2 linked regions of the Homo sapiens genome follow. The protein of the gene in region 1 purifies or fractionates together with the protein of each later gene. This does not show direct contact. Each region holds a gene or a part of one and is shown on either strand. Other genes may lie near its edges. The genes, in order: C8orf34 and ASB7.

Region 1 (15,923 bases):
AAATTGAATTTAATAAGCCTATATACTCTTATTTTAAGCCATTTTAATTAAACTTTGCAATAGCTGAGTAATGGATTTTCTAAAATTACTTATTAAATTGTAATGTGAATTTGTAAATATGCTCATTAAGCCTTGAAGCCTAATGAAGTTCCTCTAAAGCTGAATCACCTTATTAAAACAAAAATAATATCCATAAATACTGTAGATCTGGTGAATTGGCTTTCTTTCTTAAGTGAACACTGTTAGATTGAAAATAGGTCACAAAATAAAGAGAAAATTTTATAATTTAGAAATGTGTATGAAATATTAAAATAAGAGCTAAATTCACTTCCCATTAGGAAGTTTTCTTTCCATTAAAGCTCATAATTGCTTCTAACATACCTGTGAATAAAACCTGGAAATGGTCCCCTTCCTCTTAGAATTTTTTCTATTGGCAGAAAGAGACAAGCAGTAAACAAGTGAATATACAAATATATGCCATAAATTCAAGTAGTGATAGGTATGATGGAATATAAATCAAATTTAGTAATTTAGAAATAATCTAACATGGAAATTTTAAGCATAAATAATTGTAATTGATTAATATGTAATCTGCCCAAGAAATCAAAGAACAGAAGGCTTGAAATATCTAAAACACACAAAAATTATACCTCATAACTTATAAATTTCTTAATTTCTTTTTTAGTACAAGTTCAATCCAAAACAAATTTCTTTTTGGTTTCCCTCTGAGGCATTTTATTTGTAAGTATGTATTACATCCCTAGAAAAAGAATCCCAGGATTTTCCCTCCTGTGTGTCTTCGTCTTACTTCTTTGTGGTCCATGATGCCAGCTGAGGTTGTCAGTACAATGAAACCGAACTGGTCAGATGGGAGCAGATTATGCTGCCATTTTTCTAGATCTTTGAGTTGCACATGAAACCTGGGGCTGATCACTCCATATTTGTTTAGCCTGCCTGTGAGGTTCACAACAATCTTCCCAGCTCTGTGATCATCAATGATTTTAGATTCACCAGTGTAGCCATGCTTCATCACAGTGAGAAACAGGATGATAACTCTGGAGCATGGCTTGATAAGAACCTGGTGTTTGTCTCTCTTTTTAGCATTGTGGATGTTCCTGAGAATATCAACCAAGACATTCATGTGCACCATTGTGGCAGCATGGAAAGATGGCAGCTGAAAGAGACAAATTTCTTTCTTTCTTTTTTTTTTTTTTTTTTTTGAGACAGAGTCTCACTCTGTCACACAGACTGGAGTGCAGTGGTGTTATCTTGGCTCACTGCAGACTCTCCCTCCCAGTTCAAGTGAGCCTCCCACCTTAGCCTCCTGAGAAGCTGGGACTACAGGTGTGCCCCACCATGCCCAGCTAATTTCTTTTAAATTTTTTGTAGAGATGGGGTTTCACTATGTTGCCCAGGCAGGTCTTGTATTCCTGGATTCAAGCAATCCACCCATCTTGGCCCCAAAGTGCTGGGATTACAGGTATGAGCCACCATGCCTGTTTAAGATAAATTTCTTTTTAAAGCCAAAAGAGCATGCATTTAATTTCAGATCATTGATGAAGTCATCTGGACAGGTTGAAAGTTTTCTTTTTATTTATTTAGTATTCATTTGCTTATGTTAATACCAGGTAATGTGCTAGATACTGGATAAGACTGACATGACAAAAAATCCTAGACTCAAAGGAATTGCTTAAAAGTGGAGGAGAATGATTTTTAAAAATTTTGTTACTGCTCAGTTCACAGTACTAGGTATATGACAAGCACTTAAGTGTCTGCTAAACTGATTCTAAAACATCATATTTATATATTCTTAAAAATAGCTCTTACGCATAAAAATCTATATGCAACAATTGAGTGTGAAACTTTTCATGACCTCTTCAACTTCCAAGGCCTTAGTGCAAAGGGCACCCTTTAATTAATGACTGGAGTCAAAAAAAAAAAAAAGGACACAGGTTCAGCCTACAAGACTGTGAGGGTGAACTCAACAAGCTTAGGAGATAGTCCAAGAAATCATCCAATTTTTCACCAAAAAGAACGCATGGAATCAGATCAAACTAAATGTTTACCAACCTATGCTCAGAAAGAAAGCGTGAAACTAAACGGAGCAAGCTCAGGCCCACGAGTGAGACAGGAGTCAGGAGGAGGAGGGCCAGTGGTCAGAATGAAGGCTCAGGAGGCTCCACCTGCTCAGGCAGGCCCACAGGGGAGGTTCTGTGGGGTGACCTCTTTAAACTGTTCCTTTCCATTTGATCCTGGTTTAGAAATCACTCTTCTAAACCAAAGCAAAATGGATTCCTTGAGTATATGAACACCAAATTGAAATATTAACTGCTAGTCTTTCTCATCAGGCCTCTTTTTGTACACTTTCTCTTGATGTGGGATATTATGGCTCAAGAGGAGGCGTTCACATGTCCAGGATGCCCCCTTTGTGTTCTTTGAACACATAATGATATTAATTACCACTTAGAGGCTGCTCTATGTGCTTTGCATATTGTAACCCATTTCATCCTTATGAAAACACTATTATTCAGAAATGAGAGGCCCGGCGCAGTGGCTCACGCCTGTAAGCGCTCTGGGAGGCCGAGGCGGGCGGATCACAAGGTCAGGAGGTCGAAACCATCCTGGCTAACACGGTGAAACCCCGTCTCTACTAAAAATACAAAAAATTAGCCGGGCGTGGTGGTGGGCGCCTGTAGTCCCAGCTACTCGGGAGGCTGAGGCAGGAGAATGGCGTGAACCCGGGAGGTGGAGCTTGCAGTGAGCTGAGATCGTGCCACTGCACTCCAGGCTGGGTGACAGAGCAAGACTCCGTCTCAAAAAAATAAAAAATAAAAAATTAATGAGGAAACTAAGTCCCAGAGTGGCTACATCCCCATCCCAAGATTGATAGCCGTTAGGTCACTGAGCTAGGCTGCCTTGCTTCAAATTCTGTGCATTTAAATCCTTTGCTCTACAGTCTCTCTTCAGAAAGCTGTTCTAAGAATCCTGTTATTAAGCTTTAGGTTCAAATCTGGGAAAGAGGGGCCTCGGAACCCTAAGTGCTCTTAGAAAAACCCCTCTTGTTCTGATCTCACTCAACACCATCTGTATGAACACTCCTGCATCCCTGCAGCAGGCAGCTATTTTTTCTTAATGGTTGTAGGATCCACAGGCTGTGGGGCTGGAGAAGAGGGTGGTGTCATCCTTTATCGTCTGCTGCTTCCAGATCTTGCTGTCTCCTCCCTAAAACAATCCCCAGTTCTGCATCTTGTTCTGAATTTCCCAGTGTGTTAATTTCCCACATCATCTTCTAGCAATAATTTGCTAACTGCCAGCCATTCCCCTTTCTCTGAACATTCAAATGTCCGGCTCCTGTAACTCTCCCCAGTAGCTTTGCTGCATTGGTTAAGTCAGCGTCAACATCATCGGTGATCCTTCCCCAAACCTGGCCTCTCACTTTCTTTACCTACTCTTCGCCATGTATCTTGAATTCCACCCTACCTCCCCATCACTCCCTCTGTCATATCCTAGACCTTCTCATTCTCATTATCTGCAAATCCATGATGTCAATTTCAGGCATCTCACTTTCTGACTACCACCTGTCGTCTTTCTAGTTTATTGCCTCTGACACTCAGCTTTAACTGGGACCCCAAAAACACTGAGACTGCCAAAGTTTTCTTGTTTCTCACCCACCTTGTTCTTAATTTTTCTCCTTAGTCAGGTTTATCTCTGCCCCATCATGGTAATTTGTCCCTTGGATATGCCCTCAAGTCTTCTGCTCCTCTTTTCCTGTTTTACTCTCCTGGAAAAACTCTACCATGTTTACATCTAATTGTTTCCCTATTCTGTGGCTGAACCAACCTAGGCTAGAGAAGGACACATGGCCACACTGGCCAGTATCACTGAATTCACGACCACCAAACTCCAGGGGCACACTGGTGCTACCCGGCAATGCAGCTGCACCTGCCTCTGCCATTCACATATTCACTCTCCTCAATGATGACTTCACATTTTTCCTGCTCTCCCCCAATCTCCAAAACTTTTCCCCATCATCCTTATTCTTAACTAATGACTCTGTTTCCCATTTCAAAGAGAAAATAGCTGCAGTCATAAAGAAAACCTCCATAAGCTTCCTCCAGCAGACTCTCTGTGCACCTGGCTTATCTGTGCTCAGGTTTTCTGCTCTTCCCTATGGCTATGGGTGAGTCACTCATGCTCCGCCTAGGGCAAGCTCCTCCACTCAGCGCTAGGTCCTTACTCTAAATCACCCATGTAAGCTCATCACTTCTCTTCATTCCCTGCACCATTCCTTTCTCCTAGCTCATTCCCCTCAGCATGAAAGTACGATGGAACTTCTCTCTAAAAAGTGAAGCCTCCCTGGCCCCAGCAATTAATTGTTCTCTGTCTTTCATTCAATTTACAAAGAAGCTCCTCAAAGTAGTTTACTTGTGTGCACTGACCCCTCATTTTGCAATCTTTTCCAAATAGAATGTTATTCCCACCACCTATTGAAAGCAACCTTGTCAATGTCACAGGACGACCTCTTGTCCAAGTTACCCAGTGTCAGTCAAATGACCTCTGCCTTCTGAAATTCCAACCTCAAGTCTCAGCCCCCATCTTACTTGACCAAACAGCAGTGTTTGAGATTTCATCTCTCAGTTATTTATTCAAATATTTTCCTCGCAATCCGTATCTGTAATTGTGAAATTCAAAATGCTCTGACAATGAAAGTTGTTTTCATAATTCATTATAGCAAAACCTGATCTGAACCCTGCAGATTCTTTATTTATCCCACTCAGTGGGAATGCTGATACATAATGATGTAGAAATACTGAAGTATTTGATAACAGGGTGAGGCCACAGACCCTCTGGAATGTATTATATAATATAGAGTTTATGCAACAGAACACATCCAGCCTCAAGGATTCTAGAAAAACAGTTATGGACCTGGAATAAAATTCTAAGCTTACAATTGGTTAGATAACACTCTTTTTCTGTAAGTAGGCATGTTTTGATAATATGTTTGCCTTTTAGAAATAATTATATTATGTTTTATAAACTGACATTTGATTTATGCTTATTCATATAAAATAACATTTCAAGATACAGTATATATTAATTTTGCATAAAATATTTAATATCTAACCATCCTATATATATATTTAGGTACATAGTAAGCACAAGCAGTAGTCAGAATGTACATATAACATCTGCTTCAAACAGTTATACTTTGTGAATTATTATTTAACTCCTAAGGGGGAAAATCGCCTTAAAGCCGTAACTGTCTTTTTACATGAAAACATAAAATATATTTGGTAAGCATAGAATATTATAAAGTATAATATTCTATTACATTTTGTTAAATTTACAATATAAAATTTAAAGTTATGAAGGAAAATTTAATTGATTTATTAAACAGACCTAAGTAGAGCTATTTGCCAGGCACTATTCTACATTTATTAACCCTTTTTAATAGTCCAACCACTGGATTATTAAATATATTGGAAGTACTACAGTAAGCTGCATTATGGATAACAAAACTGAGGAAAAGAAAGAAGTAACTTGCCCCAAATTATTCATCTTGTAAATAAACTATGTTCAATTGTCATTCATAGCAGTATCTATATCCCTTCTAGTAGTCAAAATCAAAAGCGAATGGGGCTAAAATAATACATGAATATTGTTATTTTAAATGAATTTAATTTAGATAAAATAATTTAGGTGTTAATTCAGCTTAACATGTTAGATCTATCAGCTAAGAAATCCAAATTAAAATTTTGTTTTGATTGGTTTTGTTTACTTCTCAATGAATAAAGTTGGTCAAGGAAGACTTTAACATTGTTACATTGTTTCTCAGTTTAGAAGACACGTAATGCAATGATGCAGAGGACAGATGCCATGGCAAGAGACTGAAGCTAAATAAACTTCTTCCTTCCATTTTCAAGTGAATATTTATGTTTTATTTCCACTATTAAAGAGTAAACATGATTTTCTTTAAGTATTTGGAATGATATCGAGGGTTAGTCAAATTAAAAAATTACTTAAAAAGGGGTGCATTTTTACGACATCTTAGCAACAATCCTATTTCTGTTGGGAACCTAAGTTGGGATAGAAGATAAAATTAAAATAAATATTGCCAACATGTGTATGTTTTCATATATTTGTTCTTATTTTTTCCCTCACCTTTTTACTTTTAAAAGTTTCAAACCACAGAATATTTAAAAGTAGTAATATCAAGATCCACATACCCTCCACCTGTATTCACCAATGAACATTTTACCATCTTTATCTATGACCTATTATCTATATATCTATCATATTATCATATTCTATTTTTTGCTGAACCATCTGAAAATAAATTACAGATTTTATAAAATGTTAATTCTGTTATTCTTCAGCGTGTATTTCTTAGGAATAAAGATATTTTCTTATGTACCCATAATATAATCATCATATCAAACCAATCCCACCATAAAGTTATCTAATGTAGAGTCCACTTTCAAATGTCTTCAATTTTTCCAGTAAAGTCCTTTATGGATTTTTGTATACTTGTTTATTTATTTTTTATCTAGCATCTAATAAAAGATCATGTGTGGAATCTAGTTGTCAAATCTTTTTAGTCTTCTATAATCTACAACAGTCCTCTGCCTTTTGTTTCTTTTTTATGACATTTACATTCTTGAAGACTATGGGCCAGTTATCTTCAAAAATTTCTCCCAATCTGCGTTTGTCTGATTGTTCTCTGATTAAATTCAGATTAGATATTTTTGGAAAAAAATTCTACATAGTTGATGGGATGTACTTTCTTATTATATCATATTAGGAAGTACATAATGTCAATTTGTCCAGTATTATTGGTGATGCTAAGTTTGATCACTTGGTTAAGGTGATGTCCACCAGATTTTTCCAGTGTAAAGGTATCAGTTGCCCTTTCTAATTAACAAGTCGTGTCACTTCTGCTTGGACAAGATGGCATGGACTAATTACTTTCTGCTGTCCCTCATACATACCCCTATAAACCCTGAAATAAAGCAAGAGGAACCAAAAGAGAACTGTGAAAAGGGTACATAGGAAGGTGGAATGGTTAGGAACCTGAGGGCTGGAGGAACAGCTTAGCAGCAGGGCTCCTTGCAATTCCACACTTAACAGAATAAGGAGCATTTCTTCACTCCCAAAGTAGCAAGAGAAGGTGGCCCATGTAGGTTATTTCTTCCCCTGATTGAACAGTAGCTACACCAACAACACCAAGAGAAGCCAGAGACATAGGCCAGGGGAATTGACGATTCTCACTGGCAATACATGGTTAGGGGACATGCTTTCCTTCCCTGCCAGACTTGAGACTCCCTTTCTCCACTAAAGATGCTAGGAGAACTGAGTGGCGACAATGAATCTACCTCAGCGGCAAGAAAGAATCTACTTCAAAACATCAGGAAGGAACACAGAAAAACAGAAAGAACAGAAATATGGGTATATACAATGGACTATCCTCACGAGCTTTAGAAATGCTATTTAACTATTGAAACAAAAGTTATAGCACCATCTGATACTCAATAATATTTAAAAGTAGGGAAACTAAAGGGTCCAAAATGGAAGTAAGGTATCTATACTTTACTCCAAGTGGTAAATGTTGATATTAATAAAACAGTCTGCTGAATGTGGTACAATATACATATACATATTGTAACAGGAAGATCAGTCACTAATAAAACTATACAAAGAGATAGACTCAAAAGCACTATAAATAAAAGCAAGACAATTCAATGAGGGAGAGAATAGTCTTTTTAACAAATGGTGTTCAGACAACTATATACACATATGCAAAAGAAATTAAAGTTGAGTATTTTAAAACATCTTAATGTAATATTATAAAATATTTATTCCATCGAATGTGTTTTCCTTAACATGCATTTGCTTTGTAAATCAGGGACTAATAATCTGGACCTTCTAGCTCTTCTTTAAAAATCAGAAAATTCATCGAGTAGACTTTAATTTCCACATGGCAACAATAGGTAGGAGTAAATTAGCACCTTCCCTCTTAAGTGAGCCAAATTTCAGTTTCCCCATACTCACTTGGGAATTCCTTAGTGAGGTACGGATGGGTGTCCAAGAAAGATGATATTTCCATTATCCTTGGGGAAAACTTTAGTAACATGTCCACATACGTGTGTAATAAAATAACCAAATGGAAATTTATTTGTAGATTTTCTTTACTTATCACAGCTAATTAACATTTAAATATTTCTTCAGCTTAAAGATGGAGCCTAAGAACAAAGGATTAAAACAGCAGCAACAGCAACATAAGAAACTCCTGGCCGCAATGCTCTCTCAAGATTCTTTTGAGTCCATCCACAGCCCTACCCCATCTGTAACAGAAGAAGATATTGATAATGAAGATGATGCAATGGAATTGCTGGGTAATTTTAAAAATTAATAATTTCTCATTTTCTTCTTTGACATTGTAAAAAAAACGTGTGGTGATTAAGAGATTTTAAAAGTTTTGAATAGCCTTGTCTTAGGGAAAAGAAACCATTTAGTACATATTTTATTTACATTAGACTCACATAAAGTTGCATGTAAGAACTAAATTGAAATACCCTAAGCATATGAATATTTATTAGACTGTATTTTGTGCTTTGTGTATGCTGCACTTTACCTTCTGACTACGTAATGAAGCGTTATTCTGTGTGCAACTGTGATCAAAATTCAAGTCTGTCTGCTTTATTCTCTGATAATAATTGCCTTGTTTACATCTATTGTCTATAAAATATACCCAAAGTACATATTTCAGCCCTCACTCCAAAATGTCTACCTTTTATTTTGAGGATGCTTTAGAAAAATAGAATAAAGTTGAAAGGGGCAGATAGTAAATTCAGGTTTTATGTTTTCCGTAAATGACGGGAAAGTTTGCAGAGATTTCAAAGTTTCTTCAGGCCTGTTACTTTCATGAAACCTTATTAATCTTGTATATGTAGGATATCTTTTTATATTTTTTAATGTAGTATATGTATGTTTTTGCTTCATCAGAAATCTCTTCATATAAATTTTTAAACTGAACTTCTCTTTGGAACATCATTTTTCTGAAGAAAGAAAATGAAATGTTATTTCAGAGTGATCCACATATAAAACAATGAGTTTTGAAGTCAGTGGTATCAATTATTCTGCTACAAATAAAGAGTATGATTTTCAAATACTTTATAACAATATGCTGTTGTATTTTATTTAGAAAGAGAATAAATAATATAATTATTTGAAAGCCTTAAACACGTTTTACATATAGAATATGGAATCTCAGAAAAATATAGGCCATTTTCTGAAGTTTTTGTTAAAAATGAGATTCCTTGGTTTTAAGTGTTTATGGCAGTAAAATACTATCATTATAAAAAATGATATATTGCTTATCATTTTTGCATAGGCCTACAAAGGTGTTATTTGGTCAATGGTGACAGGTTTGAAAGATGTTTTCTGATGCTGTAAAAACTGCATTCATGCTAACATTAAGGAGATTGTATCATGGCGTTTTCATTACATGCTGTTGGTCCCTTCCAATTGGGTCTTTTCCTCACCTCCAAATCATTAACATGGCAGACGTGCCCTATGTGGCAGTGGTAGCTTCATTCAACAAACATTTACTGAGCACTTACTCTATGCTAAGCACTTGGCTGGGGTCTGGGAACATAAAAATAAAATCATTGTGATCTGTGTTTGAAGGAATTTTACATTGTAATGTTCAAGATACAATACGTCACTACCTGTGCTAACTGCGCTAATTGGATGAAGCACACAGTTGTGTATAGGGGTAACACCTAAAGCAGAGGTAAGGGACAGTGACCCAGGAATGTTTCCTAGAGAAGCCGATTACTCTGGCTAGTCCTGAAAAGCAAATAGATGTAAGCTCAGCAGGTGGGGTGTGGTCATTGTAGGTTTGCTCACGTAGGTATGGGCTGTTTTGCGATTGTGCTCCATAACTATACCTGTAAATGGTTCCTCTGCTTTGGACAGTAACAGGGAAGGGGCAACTGAGATCCAGGGTTTCTTTCAGGAGATGCAGTTGTCCACTCCATGCTGGTACTCCCTAGATCTCAGCTGCCCTGACTGAAGGTTCTAGTCTCCCAAGCTGAAGACCGAGGATTGAGTCTTGGAGACTATCTAATGATGAGCAATTAATAACTAGTCCTCATTAATTCTTTTTTTAGACATTTTAGCCTGTGGTCTGAGCAAGTTTAATAATAAGAGATAGTTGAAGGTTTGGACTTTCTTCATGTAATTCCACATATCTCAGCACAGGTGGCAAGCAGTGTAATAATGTTGGTCTCTAGGTCATGAGATTATCCTCTTATAGCTTGGAATGTTACAAGTCCACTGGACTTTATCTTAAAATAATGCCATATTCAATTTCTTGTTTTTGAAATGGATTCCAGCAAAATGTATGTGATTGTGTCTATTTCAGAAAAATATAAATGCTAAGTTCTTGGAAATTTATGTGAAATCTAATTTTATAGAGTTTATATAGAATCATTGTAAGATGCAATAGAGACATCTGGTATTTAAAATCTTTTTGAATCTACATTTTGTAGATGTGTGTGCTATAGCTTATGTGTTTGTAAATGTTTAACTTGTCTTTGTTATCTATACCAAGATATAACTGGCTGAAAAATATTTATTATGCATGGAAAGCACTCTGTAAACCTTGTGAAGTGATAAATAAGTGAAAGGTATAATTGTTAGTTGACATTAATATAAAAAAGGATTATTCTTCAATAAAATTGGTTGATTTGAAGGGAAAAAATCCTTTTAGTTGAACTAGTAGAAGTTAGTAATAACTATTGACTCTTGTTTTGTTTATTAAGGAAACTAGCATTGTTAATATATACTGATTAATATTTAATTATTCACAGTTGTTTAATTATATATTTGTGGATTTCTTTTCTAAATGTTTTAGGCATATGAAAATATTATAGTACAACACCTGTAATTTTTAAGTAGATCAAATATTTTCTGTAAGATTGCTTTAAATGCTCCTTATAAATTCACATTGCAAAAGTAACTTAATATGGAATTAACACTTGTCAGATAATAAAACAGCCAAACTTGTGAATTTTTAAGATATAATCATTTTAAGCACCTCTGAAATTGGTGCTGTAATTATAGAAGATACTGAGTAAAGTATCTGCCAAGTCATCTCATGCTCAAATATAAGATATTTTCAAATATTTTAGTACAAATATTTTAGTAATCGTTCTGGCAATTAATGACCACTATGAAAAAAAGGTTATAGAAAATCTTCACATATTTTTTAAAATTAATAAAATAAATGATTTTCAAAAATGGAATGACAAGTTACAATGGTAGAATGAGAGATTTATTGCTGGGCATAGTGGCTTAAGCCTGTAATACCAGCACTTTGGGAGGCTGAGGTGGGTGGATTGCTTGAGCCCAGGAATTTGAGACCAGCCTGGGAAACATGACGAAACCTCGTCTCTACAAAAAATACTTATATTAGTCAAGTGTGGTTGCATGCACCTATAGTCCCAGCTACTGGACTGAGTCTGGAAGGTCGAGTCTGCAGTGAGCTGTGGTCATGCCACTGTAGTCCAGCCTGGGTGACAGAGGGAGACCCTATCTCAAAAAAAAAAAAAAAAAAAAAAAAAGAAGAAAAAGAAAAGATCTATAAAAATCCCTGTATATTTTACTACATTAATTATCAGAGAACATTTGAGGAACTTCGTTAGTTTAAAAGATATTTCACCTTGGAAACATGTGCCCATTTTTCTTACATTAGATGCATTTTAATCTTATTCTTGTTGAAAGGCGAGTTTCAGTCACGTTTTTGATTATTCTCTTTATGATTGATATTCATTTAAAAATATCAGTATTATTTGAAAGATATAACTACTTTTCTTATACATTCTAATATGGGTATTACTATCCCATACAATTTGTAAAAGTTTATAAAAAATGTATTATGCTTTCTCAGAATTGATGATGAGGCAAGTATATAAAAATCAAATTCCAAAGATGCTAAAAAGGAAAACAATATTAATTATGTTTTATACTTTTTGGTCTTAGCCTATAATTATATAAAATCCAAAATCAAAAGTAAAATTACATTGCGACAAGGTGATTGCAAGTACATTTTATCTGTTTTAAAATGAATAATCAAGAACAAGTGTAATTATACTGGGATTCTTTGCTGAATATAGTCATTGAGTTTCTATTACCTCAATATGTTACCAAATTTTGTAAAATAAAAACAATTTACTAGAAGGAGTTAATACATTAAGGTGATCATTTGACACTTTCTTTCTTATATTCTGATCAACTTTTATAAAGTAAATATTCACTCTTTGTTCTGTTTTTTAAATTGGAGGCTTCTTAAAGAAGAATGTGCCCACATTGGCAAAATAAGAACAAGCATTTTGCCTAATGAGAAATGAATGCTGTCACTGAATGATGTAAAATTTCTTTAAAAAGGAGAGAGAGGGAGCACTAAATGTTTAAAGAAAAATCTACCTACCTATCCATGTACCTATATTTTAATAAAGTATGTAAAATAATCTAAAACACAAGGGACTATACATAGAAACTCTTTTTATCTCTTTGTTTCTTTTGATCTTTAGAATATTGCTCATTGGAAGTAATCAGGATAACAGAAAAGTTATCACCTTAAAATGAATGTTCTTCATAAAAAAGATTATTCATAAGAAATCTAAGGACTTTCTTTTTATTTTCTTTTTTTTTTTAAAGAGATCAAGTCTTGCTTTGGCTAATGCAGTTTGTATCACTTTCTTATGTCCTCCTTCCTGATATATTTTATAGGAGCACTTGAAAAATGAACTGCTTAGAGTAGAAAAAATCACATAAATTATAAAGTAATTCTAGCATAGACTTGAGAAAATGGTTTCTTTATGATTCATTTTCATCATATTATCATGTTAAAAAGCTTTATTTAGGATTCTTTCTTTGCTTTTGCTAAATGTATCTCAGTCCCTTTTATTACCTTCTAGATTTACTTGTTTTGTGTTTAGAATTGTTTTGTTTTTCATACCCTTCATTCTTCACTTTTGTTTTTTTCAGCAAAATATCAAAACATTTGCAAATCGTAGAGATTATCCTTTAAATAAATACAAATCTGCATGCCACCAAAATATATACATCATCCTATGTGATTTACTTTTATGGTGTTTAGTAAGAAATATTGCTTTATTTTCTTGTAAAAAATTTCCAGTGGTAAAAATAAATCAACATAGTAGAATAAACGTCAATAGTTTGAAAATGAAATCTAAACCCATAAACAAATTATTGACAAATGCCTTTTATCTCAATTATACACCTATTGGAAAATTTCTTTATAAGACACAGCCATTTCCAATATATTTGTGAAAAGAGTTGTTTAAAACCTATTTATCACTTTGAATAAGTTCCACGTTTTTTGACACATACCAATAACATAGAATAATATATTTTTTCTTGTTTATGTTATAGCTTTTCACTGAGTACCTTGTAAAGGCATGAGACACAGTGTGATTGGCATATGTGGTGGTGTTAGTGGTATATGGCCAAAGCACCAGCTTATACTCTAATGACCCAGGTCTAGACCTCATGCTACCTCTTGCTAATATTGTCCCCTCAGGTACACGTAATTAATTGTAAAGTGCTGGTGACTACATATGACCTTCCTACTCAACAGGGATGTTGAGAGGATAAAAAAAAAATGAGATATTTCTCTAAAGTGCTTTTTTTTTTTCTTTTTGTCATGGCTAACAGGAATATTTGACAAAAGACAATAGAATTTCTATACAAAACTTTTCTTCTAGATAAATTTATATCCTTGAACCCAGATACATTTTGTATGCTACAGACAAAGGAAAAAAAAAGCTTTCTTTAGCTTTGGGAAGTTGCCTAAAAACAGCAAAAATGTATGTTTCCCACAACACAATAAAATTAAAGGCTTGAAAAGATAAGAGGTAAAGCTATATGTTTTTGCAAGCCAAAATGTTGGCTATACCAACACAAAGCACTAAATTTTTCATTTTTAACTTGGATATTAAAGCAAGGATAGATGATTTGGTTAAGGATGTATAGAAAATTATTCTACTGTCTTTCATTTTCCTCTGTGTAAATGTATAATTCCTAGGAGGAAAAGAAAAATGTTTTCTGCCTACATATGTATCTCTAGTAGCAAAAGTTGGGCTTAGGGTAGGAATAAGGTGGAAAGACAAGGAGATATAGAGAAATTAGAAATTTGTACTATATGTTTACATGCTTATGTAAATAAAATTATAAAAGTGTTGAAAATCTGTTCTTAAAAATTTCTTGAATTATATTTATAAATATGAAAATGTTTGAAGCAGCACAATTTGATGGTTTCACATTAATTCACTGTGTAAACAAACCTAAACTAAATTGAAAAGCAGTGTTACATATTATTAAGGTATTGTTGCTTTTGAAATAAACTTGCCCACTTCAAATGCTTTATAAAATGGTGATGCTATATTTCAAGATCATTTGTTTAGCCATAGTAGTAATTTTCATCTAACTTGACTGAGTTTAAATTTTGTACTCTATTTAAAAGTCATTTGAAAGCAGTGCAAAATCATAACTTTATTGTAGTTTTATTCGTGGTTGAAAATGTGCAAAGAAGTGTAATTAATTCAGCACTTGGTTGCATTTTAACATCAAAACCAACAGATATTAAAGAAGCATTAAAACTCTTGATGAACTTATTAAAAATCAAATGTATAACTATAGGAATCCATTTAAATTTTCATATATCACAATATTCCCAACAACTTATTAAAATATCTCTAAATAGAAACCTTAAAATTATTGTAGTTGGCCAAGCACGGTGGCTCACGCCTGTAATCCCAGCACTTTGGGAGGCCGAGGCAGGTGGATCACCTGAGGTCAGGAGTTCGAGACCAGCCTGGCCAACATGGCAAAAATCCCATCTCTACTAAAAATACAAAAAATTAGCCAGGCATGGTGGCACATGCCCGTAATCCCAGCTACTCGGGACACTGAGGCAGGAGAATCACTAGAACCTGGGAGGCAGAGGTTGCAGTGAGCCGAGATTATGCCATTGCACTCCACCCTGGGCAACAGAGTGAAACTCCGTCTAAAAAAAAAAAAAATTATTGAAGTTTAATACTAAATACATGTTAACGGAAGAGTGGGCACAAAACTTGTCAATTATTTTCAACATCTGAAAAAATGGCAGCTTTTATGAGGTTTTATTCAAGTATTTTTAAAAAGAATATTATAAACACATTTTCAAAATCCCAAATGGTAAACTAGTCCTATGTGTGAATTATTTTTGAAATGAAAATCTTATGATTTTTCTTTTAAAAATGTCTTATGTTCAACAATTTCAGAGAGAAAATAATCATAACAATATTAAATATTTTTTTAAATTGCTCTGAAACTATTAAATAGAGGAGCACTAAAGAACAAAATGGAAAAAATATAAGTGTTCTAATTAAGGTAAATCAAAATCTAGTGATTTTATTTTACTTTTCAATTTTTTGGTTTATGTCTGCAAAAGACAGTTGAAGGTCTTATTTTAATAAATGATGTATTTCTTATATCTAGTATGAACTTAAAATTTCATATACAATTTTATGTATTTATTTTTTATCTCTGGCACTTAATGACAGAAAAAATTTCATATATAGTTTTAATTTCTTTAAAACTTTTTCAAGAATTGTCAAAAGAGGATTTGTTGGACTAGCGCTTTTTCACTTCTTAAGTGCTCTCATATGCTGTCATAGTTACTTTTTGATTACAGACATTTTGAGAGGACTCTGTATTTAAAGAGTTTAAAATAGAGGCCAGGTGCGGTGGCTCACTCCAGTAATCCCAGCACTTTGGGAGGCCAAGGCAGGCAGATCACAAGGTCAGAGTTTGAGACGAGCCTGGCTAGTATGGTGAAACCCTGTCTCCACCAT
Region 2 (15,923 bases), on another chromosome or scaffold:
AAGATTGGAATATATCCAATAATTTATTGTAGGGACATTGGTGAGGTGTCAAAACCTTTGACAGAGGAATGGGAGAACAGATTCGTGCTTTAGTAAATTAGCTAGTTATAGTATGTGAACATATCAGAAGGGCGTAAGCCCTAAGGCAAGAAGAGTAGCTGGGATATGAGGTGAGAGTGAAGTAAATCAAGAATAACTGAGCTTTTGGCCTGAGGATCAGGAAGAAAAGAATTGCCGTTAATTGAAATGAAGATTAGTAAAGGAGCAGGAGGGAAGCTAGCCAGATGCAGTTTAATAAATGGGACATAGGTGTCTAATACCAGTCACTCACCCACCTAGAAATTACTCAAATATATTGATGGGTCAGATTTTACTAATGTTAAATTCATATACCCGCCTGGTAAAACCACCGATCAGTGATCACACAGAGCTAGCCAAAATCAGAGTAAGAGGTTGCTTGTGACCATAGTTTGGGGAGAGCGATGTGACCACAGGCAGCCTGGTGGGGAGCGGCCACGTGAAGCCACACTTGCTGCTGCTTCTGGAGAAATCCGTTGAGAAAATGAGCGAGTCTGAGTCGAGTAAATGATACTACCTGTATTCCAAAAGGGTAACAGTGTGGCTCTCTTTCTAGTTTAATCTAAGCCTGTGCTGTCCATAGCAGGTGTGGTTATTTAAATTTCAGCCAAGTTAATTAAAAAGTTCAGTTCCTCGGACACAGTAGCCATGTTTTAAATGGTTGCATGTGATGAGTGGCTGCCATATTGGAGAGCACAGTTGTCCTTTGGTATGTACAGGGGATTGGTTCCAGAGCTACCCCCTCAGTATAACAAAACCACAGATACTCAAGTCCGTGGTAGAAAATGGCATAGTATTTGCATATAACCTACGCATATCTTCCTGTGTACTTTAAAATCATTTTTCAATTACTTATAATACCTAACACACTGTGAATGCTGGGTAAGTAGTTGTAATACTGTATTGTTTTTTAAAAATGTATTGTTGTATTATTTCTAATTTTTTAATCAAGTTATTTTTCATCTGTGGTTTGTTGACACTGTGCTAGGGAACACGTGGATATGAAGGGCTGACAGTGGAACACTGGCCTGTGCATACAAGTGGTACTTTGCTGCTTTACCTTCAAGCATCCTGCGTCAAAATGATGAAAACTTAGGGTTTTACTGTGGTCCGAAAATACTTGAGGTTTTAAGCACAAATGGGATGCATATAATAGCACATCTGTACAAACCCTGGTAGTCTTTATGGGATGCATATAATAGCACGTCTGTACAAACCCTGGTAGTCTTTATGGGATGCATATAATAGCACGTCTGTACAAACCCTGGTAGCCTCTCAGACCAGGTTAGTGTACTGTTAGAATCGTGATGGAAGAGTCTCTATTATAAGGGTGGAAATTGTAACAAACTCATTATTATCTTCATTTTCCAATTTTGAGTCTTCTAAAAACTCCAAGACCATGCTGGACATTTCAAGAAAATAACGTTGGAAGAGACAATGTCTTAGTGCATTTATTCATCTTCAGATTCAGTGTTTATGCAAATTGGCCCACGGGCAGTTGGCTAAAGCTCCAGAAGTTAAGTCTATAAAGCAAATCCCCAGAGGAACCTGAGAAAACCTCTCGATAAAGTAGGTAAAATCCTTTTGGTGAAACACATGAAAAAAAGTAGGAGATAGGGGGGTAATCAAAGAAATGCACAGAAGAACGGTGAAAAATATTTTTAGCATTTCAAAAATGAAAGATTTTGCAAATGATAATTCCAAATGTGACACTGGCACACTGATGGGAATTTATGAGAGTACATTTGGAAAGCAGTTTAGCAGTATGTATTGAAGTCTTAAAAACAGTAGTTTATCTTGCCAATATAGAATTTATGTTAACTCTTTATTTAAATTAAGTTTAATTAATGATTAGATTAAATATAATTCTTTTAACGTGGCCAGAGGAATCAGTCTTAAAAGCAGGAAATACTTTCTATACAAAAGTTTCACCTTTCCGAATGTCATGATGTAGTTTTAAAAAAAGCCTACCTTTCATTGTATATAATTTTTCAAACGTAGGCATTCTCAATGCCCAAATATAGAGAAGCAATTCAGTAATTAGAGTATGGTTACAGCTATGTATAATTTTTTAAAAATGTGTAGAAGAAAAGCTGAAAGTCTATCATTGGCAGTAGTTATTAGGAAATGCTATTCTTTTACCTTTGAGTACTTTTGCCACAGACAGTGTAAATGTATTTTTATCATCATTTCATCTTTTAAAATAAAAGACAATAATTGTGAAATTAAATTGTTGGGCTTATAACATGTAAAGATGAAATATATGACAGTAATTGCACAAAGAAAGGAGCTATATTGAAACAGTTTCTGTATACTTCTAGAATCCAGTAATCCCAAAGTAAAAACAAGAATGAAATAATAAACAGAATAATTGAAATCAGTGGAATTGAAAATGGGCAAATGATAGAGAAGATAGATGGAACTAAAAAACAAATAAGGATTCTTTGAAAAGATCAATAAAATTGATGAATCTTTGTCTAGAATGGTGAAAAAAAGAAAACAGGAGAAAAGATACATAACCAATATCAAGAGTGGAAGAGAGATTCTCTGTAGTATTGGAAATCCTAGCCAGAGCAGTCAAGCAAGAGAAAGGAATAAAAGGCATTCAAATTGGAAAAGAGAAAGTCAAATTGTTCCTCTTTGCTGATGATATGATCTTATATTTAGAAAAACCTAAAGACTTTACCCAAAAAACTCTTAGATTGGATAAATCAGTACAGTTGTAGGATACAAAATCAACATACAAAAATCAGTAGCATTTCTATATACCAGTAATGAAACAGGCAAAAAAAGAAATCATGAAGGTATCTCATTTATAATAGCTACAAAAAGAAAAAAGAAAAAAAACCCAACAACCTAGGAATAAATTTAACCAAGAAGATGAGAGATCTCTACAAGGAAAACTACAAAGCACTGATGAAACAAATCGAAGAGGACACAAACAAATGGAAAGACATCCCATGCTCATGGATTGGAAGAATTAATATTGTTAAAATGACTCTTCTATCCAAGGCAATTGGTAGATTCAATGCAACTGCTATCAAAACACCAACATCAGTTTTTCAAAGTTAGAAAAAACAATCCTAAAATTCATATGGAACCAAAAAAGAGCCCAAATAGCTGAAGCAATCCTGAGCAAAAGGGACAAAGCTGGAGGCATCACACTACCGGACTTCAAAATATACTACAAGGCTCTAGTAACCAAAACAGCATGGTATTGACCTAAAAACAGACACAGACCAATGGAACAGAGAATCCAGAAATCTACGTATTTTTAGTAAACTGATTTTCGACAAAGATAACAAGAACATACTTTGAGGAAAGGACACCCTCTTCAGGCTGGGAAAACTGGATATCCATGTGCAGAAGAATAAAACCAGACCCCTGTCTCTCACCATATGCAAAACAACATAAGATGGATTAAAAACATAAACATAAGACCTGGAACGTCACATCTACTGGAAGAAAACAGGAAAAACACTTCAGGACATTGCTTTAGGCAGAGATTTTATGGCTAAGACCTCAGAAACACAGACAACTAAAACATAGGCAAATGGGACTATATTTTAGAAACTGAAAAACCTTTATACAGCAAAAGAAACAATTAATAGAATGAAGAGACAGCCTGTTGAATGGGAGAAAATATTTGCAAACTGGCATCTGACAAGGGACATTGTAATATCCAGAATATACAAGGAACTCAACAGTAAAAACAACAAATAATCCCATTAAAAAGTGGGCAGGTCAGGCGTGGTGGCTCACACCTGTAATCCCAGCACTTTGGGAGGCTGAGGTGGGTGGATCACCTGAGGCCAGGAGTTCAAGACCAGCTTGGCCAACATGGTAAAACCCCATCTCTACTAAAAATACAAAAATTAGCTGGGCCCACGTGGTGGTGGATGCCTGTAATCCCAGCTACTTGGGAGGCTGAGGCAGGAGAATCGCTTGAACCTGGGAGGCAGAGGTTGCAGGTAGCCGAGATCATGCCACTGCACTGCAGCCTGGGCAACAAGAGCGAAATTACATCTCAAAAAAACAAAAGTGAGCAAAGGACACAAATAGACATTTCTCGAAAGAAGACATGCAGATGTCCAGCAGGCATGTGAAAAATTGCTCAACATCATTAATCATCAGGGAAATGCAAATCAAAACCACAATGAGATATCTTATCCCAGTTGTAATGGCTACTGTTAAAAAGACAAAAAATAACAGATGCCAGCAAAGAGGCAGAGAAAAGAAAACTCTTAATACGGTGTTGGTGGGACTGTCAATTAGTATAACCACTGTGGAAAACTGGACATTTCTCAAATAAACTAAAAATAGAAATACTATGTAATCCAGCAGTCAAAGAAAACTCTTAATACGGCATCGGTGGGACTGTAAATTAGTACAACCTCTGTGGAAAACTGGACATTTCTCAAATAAACTAAAAATAGAAATACTATATAATCCAGCAGTCCCACTACTGAGTATCCAAAAGAAAAGAAATCAGTATATCAAAGGAATACCTGCACTTGTGTGTTTATTACAGCACTATTCACAATAGCAAAGATTTGGAATCAACCTAAGTGTCCATTGTGGTATATATACACACAATAGAATACAATTTGGCCATAAAAAATGAGATCATTTGCAGCCACATAGATGACGAGGTCATCATGTGAGGTGAAATAAGTCAAGCACAGAAAGACAAATATCATGTTCTCACTCATGTGGAAGCTAAAAAAAGTTGGCCTCTCGATAGTAGAGAATAGAAGATAGAAAACAGAGGCTGGGAAGGGTATGTTGGTGGTAGGAGGAGATAAAGAGAGGTTGGTTAATGGGTTCCATTTGTTAGAAGAAAGAAGTTCTGACGTTCAATAGCAGAATAGGGTGACTATAGTTAACAACAATGTATTATGTATCTCAGAGTAGCTGCAAGAGAAGACTTGAAATGTTCTCAGCTCATAGAAGTGATAAATGCTCAAGGTGATGATGGATAACGCAGATACCCTGACTTGATCGTTACACATTCTGTGCATGTAATAGATACTCACATATACCCAGTAAACATGTAAAATATCACATACCAATAAAAAATTTAAAAAGAGTGGAAGGGATATGTCACTACAGATCCTCTAGACATCAAAAAGATTAGGAGTATAATGGGCACCTTTGTGCCATTAGGAAAAATGGACAGATTTCCTGATGCACAAAACTGATGCTAAAACTGACCCAAGGAAAAAATAGATTAATAGCCTTATATCAATTTAAGAAGTCTAGCTCATAACTAAAACTTTTCACTGAGAAGACTTTAGGTCCAGCTGGCTTCTCATTGAATTATTTCAGATATTAAAGGACGTAAATAAGGATTCTACACAAATTTTTTGACAGAGGAGGGAACACTTCCAAGCTTGTTGTATGAGGCTTGTGTAGCCCTGATACAGACCAAACAAAGACCTTGGAAGAAAACTATAAGCCAATATTTTTCATGACAATAGATACCAAAATTCCTAACGAAATATTGGCAAATCCAGTCTATTGGTGTATAAAAAAAAATATTATGCCCAAGTAGTATTTACTCCAGGAGTACAATATTTGTTTAACATCTGAAAATCAATAGGCTGAGTAATTTGTCACATTAGAATAAAACATAAATACCTAACAATCATTTCAGTAGATTCAGAAAATGGAACAGTCTTAAATACCTTCATGAGAAAGATGGGAAACCAGAAGCAGAAGGTGATTTCCAAAGCAATGAAAAGCTACAGCTTCCCGGGTGGTGAACTACTGAATTCTTTCCTTTTAAGATCAGGAACCAAGGGAAGGGTCTGTGCTTTTGCCACTTTATTCAGCATCCTACTGTATGTTCTAACCAGTGGAATGAGGGCAGAGCAGTAATCAAGGGTCATGAATTGGAAAGAAAGAAGTCAAACTGTATTTGCAGAGAACATAATTGTGCATGTAGACCCTGGCAAGAAAACTACAAATGTGTTCTAGAACTAAAAGTGATTTTGGGTAGGTTATAGAATACACAAGTCAGTGTATAAAAATCAATTTTATTTCTATCAGCAGTCATCATTTGGAAAATGGAATTTTAGCTCATTATAATAGCAACAAAGTTTAAAATATTTAATAATAAATTTAACAAAAGATATGCATGACGTATATAAGCTATAAAACATTGCTGAAGAGAATTAAGACCTATATAGAGAACTATCCCATGTTTATGGTTTGGAAGAATCAATATTGTTTGGATCATTTTGGAGAGATTGCCATCCTTAGAGTCAGTGGCGTTCTAATCAGAATTCCAGCAGGCTTGTTTGAGGACTTGACAAGCTGATTCTAAAATTTATTATCCCAAATATTAATAATTTTAAAGAAGGCTAGAGAACTTAAGCTACCTGCTATTAAAACTTACTATAAGCTACAGTAGTCAAGACAGTGTGGGATTGGTGTATGGAGAGACTTTTAGGTCAATGGAACAAAACAGAATTAAGAAATAGAGCGACACTTTTATGGTAAATTGATTTTCAGCAGTGACACTAGGGTAAATCATTAAGAGTCCTTTTAACAAATTGTGCTGGAACAAGTAGATATCTTTGTGGGGAGTACTGAACCTTGAACTTACGTTATACCACACAGAAAAATTAATTATGGGCTATTGATCTAAATGTGAGAGTTAAAAGTGCAAAATTCCTAGAAGAAAAAAAATCTTTGTGACAATGCATTGAGCAAAGATTTTTAAAATAGGATACAAAACTACAAACTGTAAAATAAATAATGGGCTTCATCAAAATTAAGAGTTTTGCTCTTCAAAACATAATACAGAAAATGAAAAAGCACGCAACAAACTAGGAGAAAATATTTACAAGACACATCTGACAAAAGGCTTGTATCCAGAATATACACAGAATTTGTACAACTCATTAATGAGGAGACAACCAATAAAAATGGATAAAGGAGGTGAACAGACAATTCACAAAACAGTATATGAATACGTTCAGTATAACTAGTTATTAGGGAAATAGAAATTAAAAGCACAATAAGCCACGATTTTACCTCTCTAGAATGAGTGAAATTAAAATGACTAATGATACCAAGATGTAGAACAATCTGAACTCATCCATTGCTGATGAGAATGTAAGATGGTGTAGCCATTTAAAAAGGAACTTAGGAAAGTTTCATGTGCATTTCACATACGACCCAGCAAGTCTCTCGTGGGTATTGAACCCAAGTGAGATGAAAACACTCTGTCCCCCTCTCCTTCTCTCTCTGTCTCTCTCTCTCTCTGTCTGTCTCTCTCTCATATATTAATTCATGATAGTGTTATTCAAATAGGCTCAAATTGGTAAGAACTGAAATGCCCATCTTCTCATCAATTGATTAAAAAAACTATATAGTATACAGTACTATCCAGCAATACAAAAGAGTGAACTGTCGATACAACATGGAAGTATGGCGGAAACATCATGCAAAGTGAAGTAAGTCAAACACAGAAGTCTACATATGATTCTATTAATATGAATTTCCAGAAATGACAAAACTTTTTTGACCAGTGGTTTGCCTGGGACCCAGAGTCTGGGAAGGGCTAAAGAGAGATGAAGGAACTTTTTGAGATGATGGAATGTTCTATATTTTAAATAGGGTGGTGGGTTATATACTCGTATACAGTTATCAAAGCTCATCATCTGTACCCTTAAAGTGAATGCATTTTACCTCAATAAAGCTGTTAGAAAAAAAAAAATCCCCTCATATTCATAGGTAATGTTTCTTTGCTTCTGTTTATATACATTAAATTTTTTTCTCGTAAATTTAAATGAACTTGTTGAGATTATGCTACAGCTTATTTAAAATAAGTTCCACCTGGGGAGAAAATGTTTGCTAAGGGGACAAAGTAATAAGTTCAGTGGGGTTGCTGTTTTAGATGAAATGTTTAGGGAAGGCTTTTCTTTTTTTGATAAAAGGACATTTGAGTGGATACAGAGTGACATGAGTTCACTTAATGTTTTCACGTCTTGTCCATTTCTTACTGAATTTCTGTCTAGGCGTTTTGTAGTTTATGTTGCTATTACAAATGAGATATTTTTCTTACCTTATTTCATGGGCTAATAATCTTTAAATTACATTTGTTTGCATTTTCATTGCTTCTAATCTCCCATTTGATTTTAACAGAGACTATGCAGGTCATTGTTGTGTGTGTTAATCTCTGTTTTTCCTTAGCTCAGTGTAGCTTCAAAATGTACATAGAACCTGAAAGAGACCTGAAATGGAAACCAAAGATGCAAGTGCAGTGTTTTGTAACATAATTTTAATTTTACTGTCAAATAGAACGAGTATAGGATACAAATAAGGATGGTGGCTGAAGGGTGGGAGAAGTGAAAAGAAGGTATTCTTAAATTTCACTTGCAGATTAAGAGGGAATGTCTGCCAGCAGTTGACTGGCCAGGTATAGATTAGAAATGACCTCTGGCAAGATGTTTTGTTTCATTTGAATGGGAGGGCATCTTGTAGATTTCACGCCTGACTTTGAACTTCTGGTAAGCGATGCACCTGGAACCGGCTTGAGTGACTTAAGGGCTCAGCAGTATCTGCCCGGTGGAAACATTAGTGTCATGCTCATGCCTTACCAGCAGATGGCAGCAAAATGCTGTGTTAAAATGTTCTTACCCTACTTAAATTTAAGTCCTGTGGTAAACAGATACTGTATATTTTTCTTTCAGTTAAGACCAAGGTAGATATAATGCCCTTATTTCCCCTAAATAGATACAACTAATACTACCATTGTGTACTGACACTTTACAGTAAATGTTTTTAGAAATCTACATGATATGGCTTACCTAAAAACATCTTATTTTGTATAGGTTTTGTTAGCAACTCCTTCACTGAAATACTTTCCACAGTATTGTTATTTTACATATAGTTTTCTGCCTCAGATTTTTCTAAGAGAACCATTTGTCATAATATGTTCTAGACCTAAATAACGTTTATTAAACAATACGTGAGTTTTCACTCACCTGTGGAGGCTGTGTGTGTGTATGTATGTGTAGGTGTGTGTGTAAAACATTAATGATTTTTTTCTTTTATTAACAAGCCAAAAATTAAGGTGACTTTTACAAGAGAGCATTTTCATCCTGGGTAGTTAGGTCTGATCAATTGATCTTTTACATGGAATTGCTGACTTCTAGGAGGTGCCCGGCATAACCAGTCCTCGTCCGTCTTCTGCCCCCAGCCAGGGATGCCATGGGGTGAACGCCATCAAGAACCAACCTTTGGCTTAATGAAAGATCTGAGGCCAGTGACAAAAGACTGTGACTTGAGTCACATAGCAGATAAATTATTATAGTTGTTTTTCCTTCCCCAGAGATCAGTCAATTAGGAGAGGTTTTTGGAACTGTTTTAGAAAATATTTTTACAATGCTGAGGTTATTCACATAATGCATTGCTTAATTCTTATAAACTCCAAAGTTCGTGTAAAACTAAGAATTCAGAATAGACTTCTATCTTGTGAAAAAACAATTTGTCAAGATTACTTGACATATATCTGAGATGCTTTGGAATTTTTACAGACCACAGAAAAACTTTTTTTTATTACTTAATATACCCTAAAACAACACGGTGTGCCAGAGCATAGTGTATCTGTAATTTAGAGCAGCAGATGTTGCTACACATGCTTCTCTTTAAGACCGAGAAGAAGCACAAGAGAAAATAAAACAAAAAGTTCAAAACAGAAGAGAAACATGAAACAGTGCAGAGATGAAGGAGTTGAGTAGCCAGAGGCAGTTGGTTAAATTAGCAAAGACAGGGGATGTGGTGATCTGTACTCCGTGTTTTTTGTGTATATCTTTTTAAACACTTTGTCTTTCTCCTTTCATTAACCCAGACGTGATAACATTCTACAAAATTTATTTTCCATTAAAACCAGACTTGAATTAAACTGAGGAAAAACGTACTTGATATTCATTACAGTGTTTGGTTGCTTCACATTTTATATGAGAATTGGCCACAGTTTGCTGTGCCATGGTAATGTTTGTTGTTTTGTCTTGGAGTCTGCTAATACTTTCATTTTGGTTTTAACTCCAGCTGATCCTACAGTTAAAGACTTAATCGGAGGCTTCACGGCTCTTCACTATGCAGCCATGCATGGCCGGGCCCGCATTGCACGCTTGATGTTAGAATCTGAATACAGGAGCGACATCATTAATGCAAAAAGCAATGACGGCTGGACTCCCCTCCATGTGGCTGCCCACTACGGCAGGGACTCATTTGTCCGGCTCCTCCTGGAGTTCAAGGCTGAGGTTGACCCACTCAGTGATAAAGGTACCACACCGCTTCAGCTCGCCATTATCCGAGAGAGGTCAAGCTGTGTGAAAATCCTCCTGGACCACAATGCCAACATCGACATTCAGAATGGTTTCCTGTTGCGATACGCCGTGATCAAAAGCAATCACTCTTATTGCCGAATGTTCCTTCAGAGAGGGGCAGACACAAACTTGGGTCGCTTAGAAGACGGACAGACTCCTTTACACTTATCTGCCCTTAGGGATGATGTGCTGTGTGCACGGATGTTATATAATTACGGAGCAGACACGAACACACGGAACTATGAAGGACAGACCCCATTGGCTGTTTCAATAAGTATTTCTGGAAGTAGTCGACCATGTTTGGATTTCTTACAAGAAGTCACAAGTATGTAATATAATTATTACTTTATTGCATTTTTTAAAAATTTGCATCTTCTGAGGAGCTTAATGTGTTTTTGCAACTTAAGATGACTAGATATTAATCATTCCTATAACCACTGCTTGGTAAGCGATGCCTCATTCTTCTGAAATAAAAAAAAAACTTTGACTGTATCACAAGATTTCATAAAAATTCAATTGTGTTTCTAAATGTAATAGGGGTAGACAGTAAGAGTGAGGGAAGGAATGGAGAGAAGGACAGAGAGGAGAATTTTTTTTAAATGAACAAAGATCTGTGTTAGAACAAGGCAATTCCTGTTGGTCATAAGGATAATCTTACCTGGCTTCCATTGACTGCAAGTTGAGGAGTTAGAGGGGGAATTTTGGATCTTAGATTCCTTACCTGTGAAAATATCCTAGAATTTGTGCTTTATTGCTAAGTTGTTCACGTTTTAATTGTGGCTTTTCTGCTTCATGAGAGCCCACATGAAATGGAGCAGTGGTGCTGTGTATTTAGGGATACCACTCGTGGAAGTTAAGGATGCTAGAAATTGTTGTAAGAAAATATTTGCAGTGGGAAGTTTGGCACCACTGTCCCTGGACCACATGGCTTCCATTGTATTTGAACGTTTTTGTGTGGGTGCTTTTTTTAAAGCCTGGAAGTGTCTGGCCCACTTTGTGTAGTAACGCGTGCGTCCTAGTTGTTCCTCTGATGGGGTATCAGCTTGTGTGTACTTAGCCATCCTCTCTTGTCAAGCTTCCACGTGACCAGTTGAATGTGTGTCTCATGCTTAATGTCCACCATGAAGCTAAAATCTGTAAACAAAATGGATTTTGCTGTCTGCTGAACTTTTTAATGAGTTCCTTTTTCCTCACTGGTTTTGAGCCTTCGGTCATTATTATACAAGAGGACATATTAACATCCTGGGTACCAGCTACTAGAGGGCAAGGGCTCTACCTGACCTGCTTGTAAGTAACCCACTCTACCCCTTGGAGCGGGCCTTTGGAGTACACATTTGCTTTATGAAGAAACAAAATGTAATTTGAATTTTGCAGATTCATGGAAGAAAAGATGCAATTATTATCACTAATGTTTTCAGACTAAAGCGTAAGAAAAAATCACACTGCTTAGTCTACTTAGTGCTGGCCAGTACCAGTTTCTGTGATGTTGGAAATGGTCTCTCCTTGCTGTCCAGTATAGTAGCCACTGGTCCCATGTGGCTGCTGAGCACCTATTAATGTGACCGTTGCCACTGAGGAACTGAAATTTCAATTTTATTTAATTGCGATTTAAGTTTAAATGGCCACAAGTGCCTGGTGGTTCCTTTGTTGGTCCACACAGATCTGCCTGCCTTGGGAGAGGTATCTGGGGCTGACTGGTGGGTGTTCCATTGCAGAAAGCTTCTGAGACACACAGAAGTCGCCACAGTTGGGAGACGTGATACCCGCAGTGCTGCAGTCCTGCTTGCCTTGTTGTTGTTCTCTCAACTTCTACATTAGAGACTTAGTTATGATGAGTGTGGCCGCCCTTAGGAAGGCATGTTATATACTCACTTAAATGCCTCAGCCCCCTTTTTTAAAATACTTTGTTCAGTGGTTAATGGCATAGACTAGAGCTAGACTGCAAGAGTTTGAGCCTTAACTCTATCCCATGTTAGCTGTGACCTTGGGCAGGTCGCCTAATCTCTCTGTGCCTTAGTGTCCTCACCTTCAAATTAAGATAATACAGGCTTGTTATGAGGATTAAATGAGTTAATATTTATAATGCACTTAACACTTAAAATGTTCTTGTTCTTTGTAATTGTTTTTCAAGGTGAAGTGTGTAACTAATAAAGTGAGGGGGGATTAACAGCGAGGACTGGCTTGCCACCAACAGAGCAAATCTTTAGATTCATATTCAACTCAAGCCTCCCAGTTTCAACCCTGTATACAACTGTCCAGAGTCTGTACATGGAGGCACGCAGCCACGTGGCCGAGAGGAGCCGCTGGGCAGGACAAGCACGTGGGCGGCTGCCGTGTGTCCCTGAGCCCTCAGAGCTGCCCCTAGCAGTGCTGTTGGACAGCAGGAATGTTGAGTTAAAGACTCACATGCACTTTAAAATTTGAGCAGATAGAAATGTCAGTGGGGACTGCCTCTGTCTGTGCTTAGGTTCTCCACTGTACGAGGAGCAGAGCTGTGCGCCTAGGAGGTCCTCAGTAGTCCTGGCAGTCTGGCTGACTGCGCACAGCGAGGGGTGGGGACTGAGGAAGCACAGGCTGCTTTCCTGAGTGCAGGGTCCTCCGTCTGTTAAGGCTCCAGTTGTCCTTTGTCTTCAGGTGCCTCAACATAATTTAGTATTTCTTGACTCTCCAGTGGTGTTTCCTGCCAAAAGCAAATTTGGTGTTTCTGCTTCACCTGTGTGTTCTTTGGCTCTAAATAGGTTTTCTTTTCCTGGTGAACAATATGGGCTAGAAGGAGCAGCTGTGGCTGATGCTCTGGACTGAGCTTTCTCATGAAAAGCAGCTTGAAAGAAGGTTGGTTGGTTCAGGGAGCACTAAATCAAAGCTGAGAGCTTCTTCTAGCCCGCGTGCTGTGGGCACCGCAGCCCCAGGCATCATGCTGTTGGCTTATGATTGGAGATCGCAGACTGCCGAGGTATAAGGACAGCAGAGGGGCCACATGGTGGTCTTCATTCAGGGACATTTTACTCTTCATCACACTGTTTTGCCTAGAAACAGATTATTTAAATTGGAAGAGACCAAAAAAATTATAATACCAGAATTTAAAAACTCCTCTGGCCTTTTGGAAAAATTGCCGTAAAAACTCTGATCTATATAGTGCAAAAAAAAAAAAAAAACAGAGCGCACCCGTGGCTTGGTAATAAACTAACATCTGCTTGTGACTTGTTAGTGCTGAGTAGGGGGAGAGGCCATGAAGAGCTGCTGTTGCTGTTCCCTACAGCCAGCCCGCTGTCCAGCATTCAGACCTCAGAACCTCCCCCTTCCAGGACGTCAGGAGCGCAGCAGGGCCCATCCATGGAGGAGCCACTTCTCTGTGCCCAGGAATGATAAACACAGCTAAGAGGAGCCATAGCACCTGCCTGAATAATGAGCGCCACCTGTGGGAGGAAAGCTGCGTCCTGCTTAGTTGGCAGTGTTTATAAGAAGCCAGTTTTTGGTTTTTTACTTGTAGCCAAAAAAAAAAAAAAAAGAATGGAATGAATAAATTAAAGAGAGAACAGTGAAGGTGTGACCGATGTCAAGTAGAAATGGTAGTGACGGCTGGGCGCAGTGGCTCATGCCTGTAATCCTAGCACTTTGGGAGGCTGAGGCGGGTGGGTCACCTGAGGTCAGGAGTTTGAGGCCAGCCTGGCCAACGTGGTGAAACCCCATCTCTACTAAAAATACAAAAATTAGCCGGGCATGGTGGCACATGCCTGTAATCCCAGTTACTTGGAAGGCTGAGGCAGGAGAATCGCTTGAACCCAGGAGGCAGAGGTTGCAGTGAGCCAAGATTGTGCTACTGCACTCCGGCCTGGGTGACAAGAGTGAAACTCTCTCAAGAAAAAAAAGAGGAAAGAGAGGAAAGGAAAGGGGAAAGGGAAAGAAAGGAAGAAAGGAAGGAAAGGAAGAAGGAAGGAGGAAGGAAGGAAGGAGGAAGGAAGGAAGGAGGGGAAGGAAGGAGGAAGAAAAAAAAGAGAAATAAATGGTAGTGAGGACAGACAGCAGTGGACATTTTGGAGGTAAATAGCCCCTTGTGCCTGGGCCAGGACTAGGTTGAGGCAAGTGAAGTGGCCAGGGCACAAAACTTAGGAGGCCCTCATTCTCAGGCTCGTGCACACAAAGTGGAATAATGTGTACATAATGTTTGCACACACACCACTCCAGAACTAAGAGGATCCTGGAGGCTCTGGCATGTGGGCATTGGTTACAGTTCTCCAGCCTCAGGTGAAGAGCAGAAGGTTGTGGGAATGTTTGCCCCATTCAAAAGAGAAATTTAGTGGTTATGAACAGGAAAAGGGTGACACAAGCAGATGTTATTAAACAGATACAGTACTATAACCTTGTGAAAAGATTGTTCCTCAGTAAAGCTTGAGGAGTAAATAATACCACCCATCCTGAAGAATCAGATAGTGAGTTACTGAGTTTTTTTTCTTATCTTCTTCCTCACAGGGTAAACTCCCATAGTCAATGTATGGACCAGGGAGTTATTCAGAATATGAAATCTTTTAGAAAGAGATTCCATGAGAAAGCTGAACCTCAGGCAGTGACTAGCAGGAACGTTTAATCATATACGTATTCACGTGTACACACATATAAAAGTGAGGCTTTAATGATCGGCACAACTGCAATTTTGTTCAAAGAGAAGTAGGAGAAAATATATGTTTTTGGGGAAAACCCCACCTCAGAATGCTTAAGCACAAATTATAGACCTGGCAAGGTAAGTACTGTTCTCACCGAGCCACTTCTGCAGGTGAAAGGAAAGGATTGAAAAGAAAAGAGATAGGGCCAGGTGCAGTGGCTGACACCTGTCATCCCAGCACTTTGGGAGGCCAAAGCAGGTGGATCACTTGAGGCCGGGAGTTAGAGACCAGCCCGTCCAACATGGTGAAACCCCGTCTCTACTAAAAACACAAAAATTAGCTGGGTGTGGTGGCACGCACCTATTGTCCCCGCTACTCACGAGGCTGAGGCAGGAGAATCTCTTGAACCCGGGAGGCTGCAGTTACAGTGAGCCGAGATCACGCCACTGCACTCCAGCCTGGGTGACAGAGTGAGACTCCATCTCAAAAGAAAGAAAGAAAGAAAGAAATAGTAGCTGCAGTTCCTTGTGCAAATGGTATGGAAATTGGGGGAAACTTTCAGTAACACAGTCCAGTGGAAGGTAAGATAGCAGTAAACAGGATGGCTCCCTCCTGGAGAATGCCCCCTGGAAAGGAGGCGGTGTCTGATTGGCTAGATTATTTGCAGAAAAGAGGCCATACTGTGCTTTCTACCTGGGAATTCCTTTCACTGTGAGGCTTTTTACCCTTTACGTAGGAGGGAAAGGTTCAAAAGGCAAAGCAGAGTCAAAGGTTGGTTTGCCCCAGCAGACAAGGTACAGCACTGTTGGGGGGTCACCTTGTCACTCCTGTTTCCCTTTGCCAATGACACCCACATCTGTACTGTGTTGAGAATTTCACCTCCTCAGAGCTGCTGCTTATT

The links.
Region 2: the proteins of C8orf34 (region 1) and ASB7 purify together in Homo sapiens (affinity purification with mass spectrometry; 3 studies listed by BioGRID and IntAct, with this or other methods). This does not show direct contact.

The regions. Positions count from the first base shown.
Region 1 is NC_000008.11:68,524,757-68,540,679, forward strand, and holds part of C8orf34 (uncharacterized protein C8orf34), read left to right. Parts: intron 1-726; exon of another isoform or gene 727-1,183; intron 1,184-5,836; exon of another isoform or gene 5,837-5,923; intron 5,924-8,226; coding exon 8,227-8,393; coding exon of another isoform or gene 8,394-8,410; exon of another isoform or gene 8,411-14,452; intron 14,453-15,923.
Region 2 is NC_000015.10:100,619,297-100,635,219, forward strand, and holds part of ASB7 (ankyrin repeat and SOCS box protein 7), read left to right. Parts: intron 1-10,140; coding exon 10,141-10,746; coding exon of another isoform or gene 10,747-10,754; exon of another isoform or gene 10,755-10,913; intron 10,914-15,923. UniProt on the Homo sapiens protein: Probable substrate-recognition component of a SCF-like ECS (Elongin-Cullin-SOCS-box protein) E3 ubiquitin-protein ligase complex which mediates the ubiquitination and subsequent proteasomal degradation of target proteins.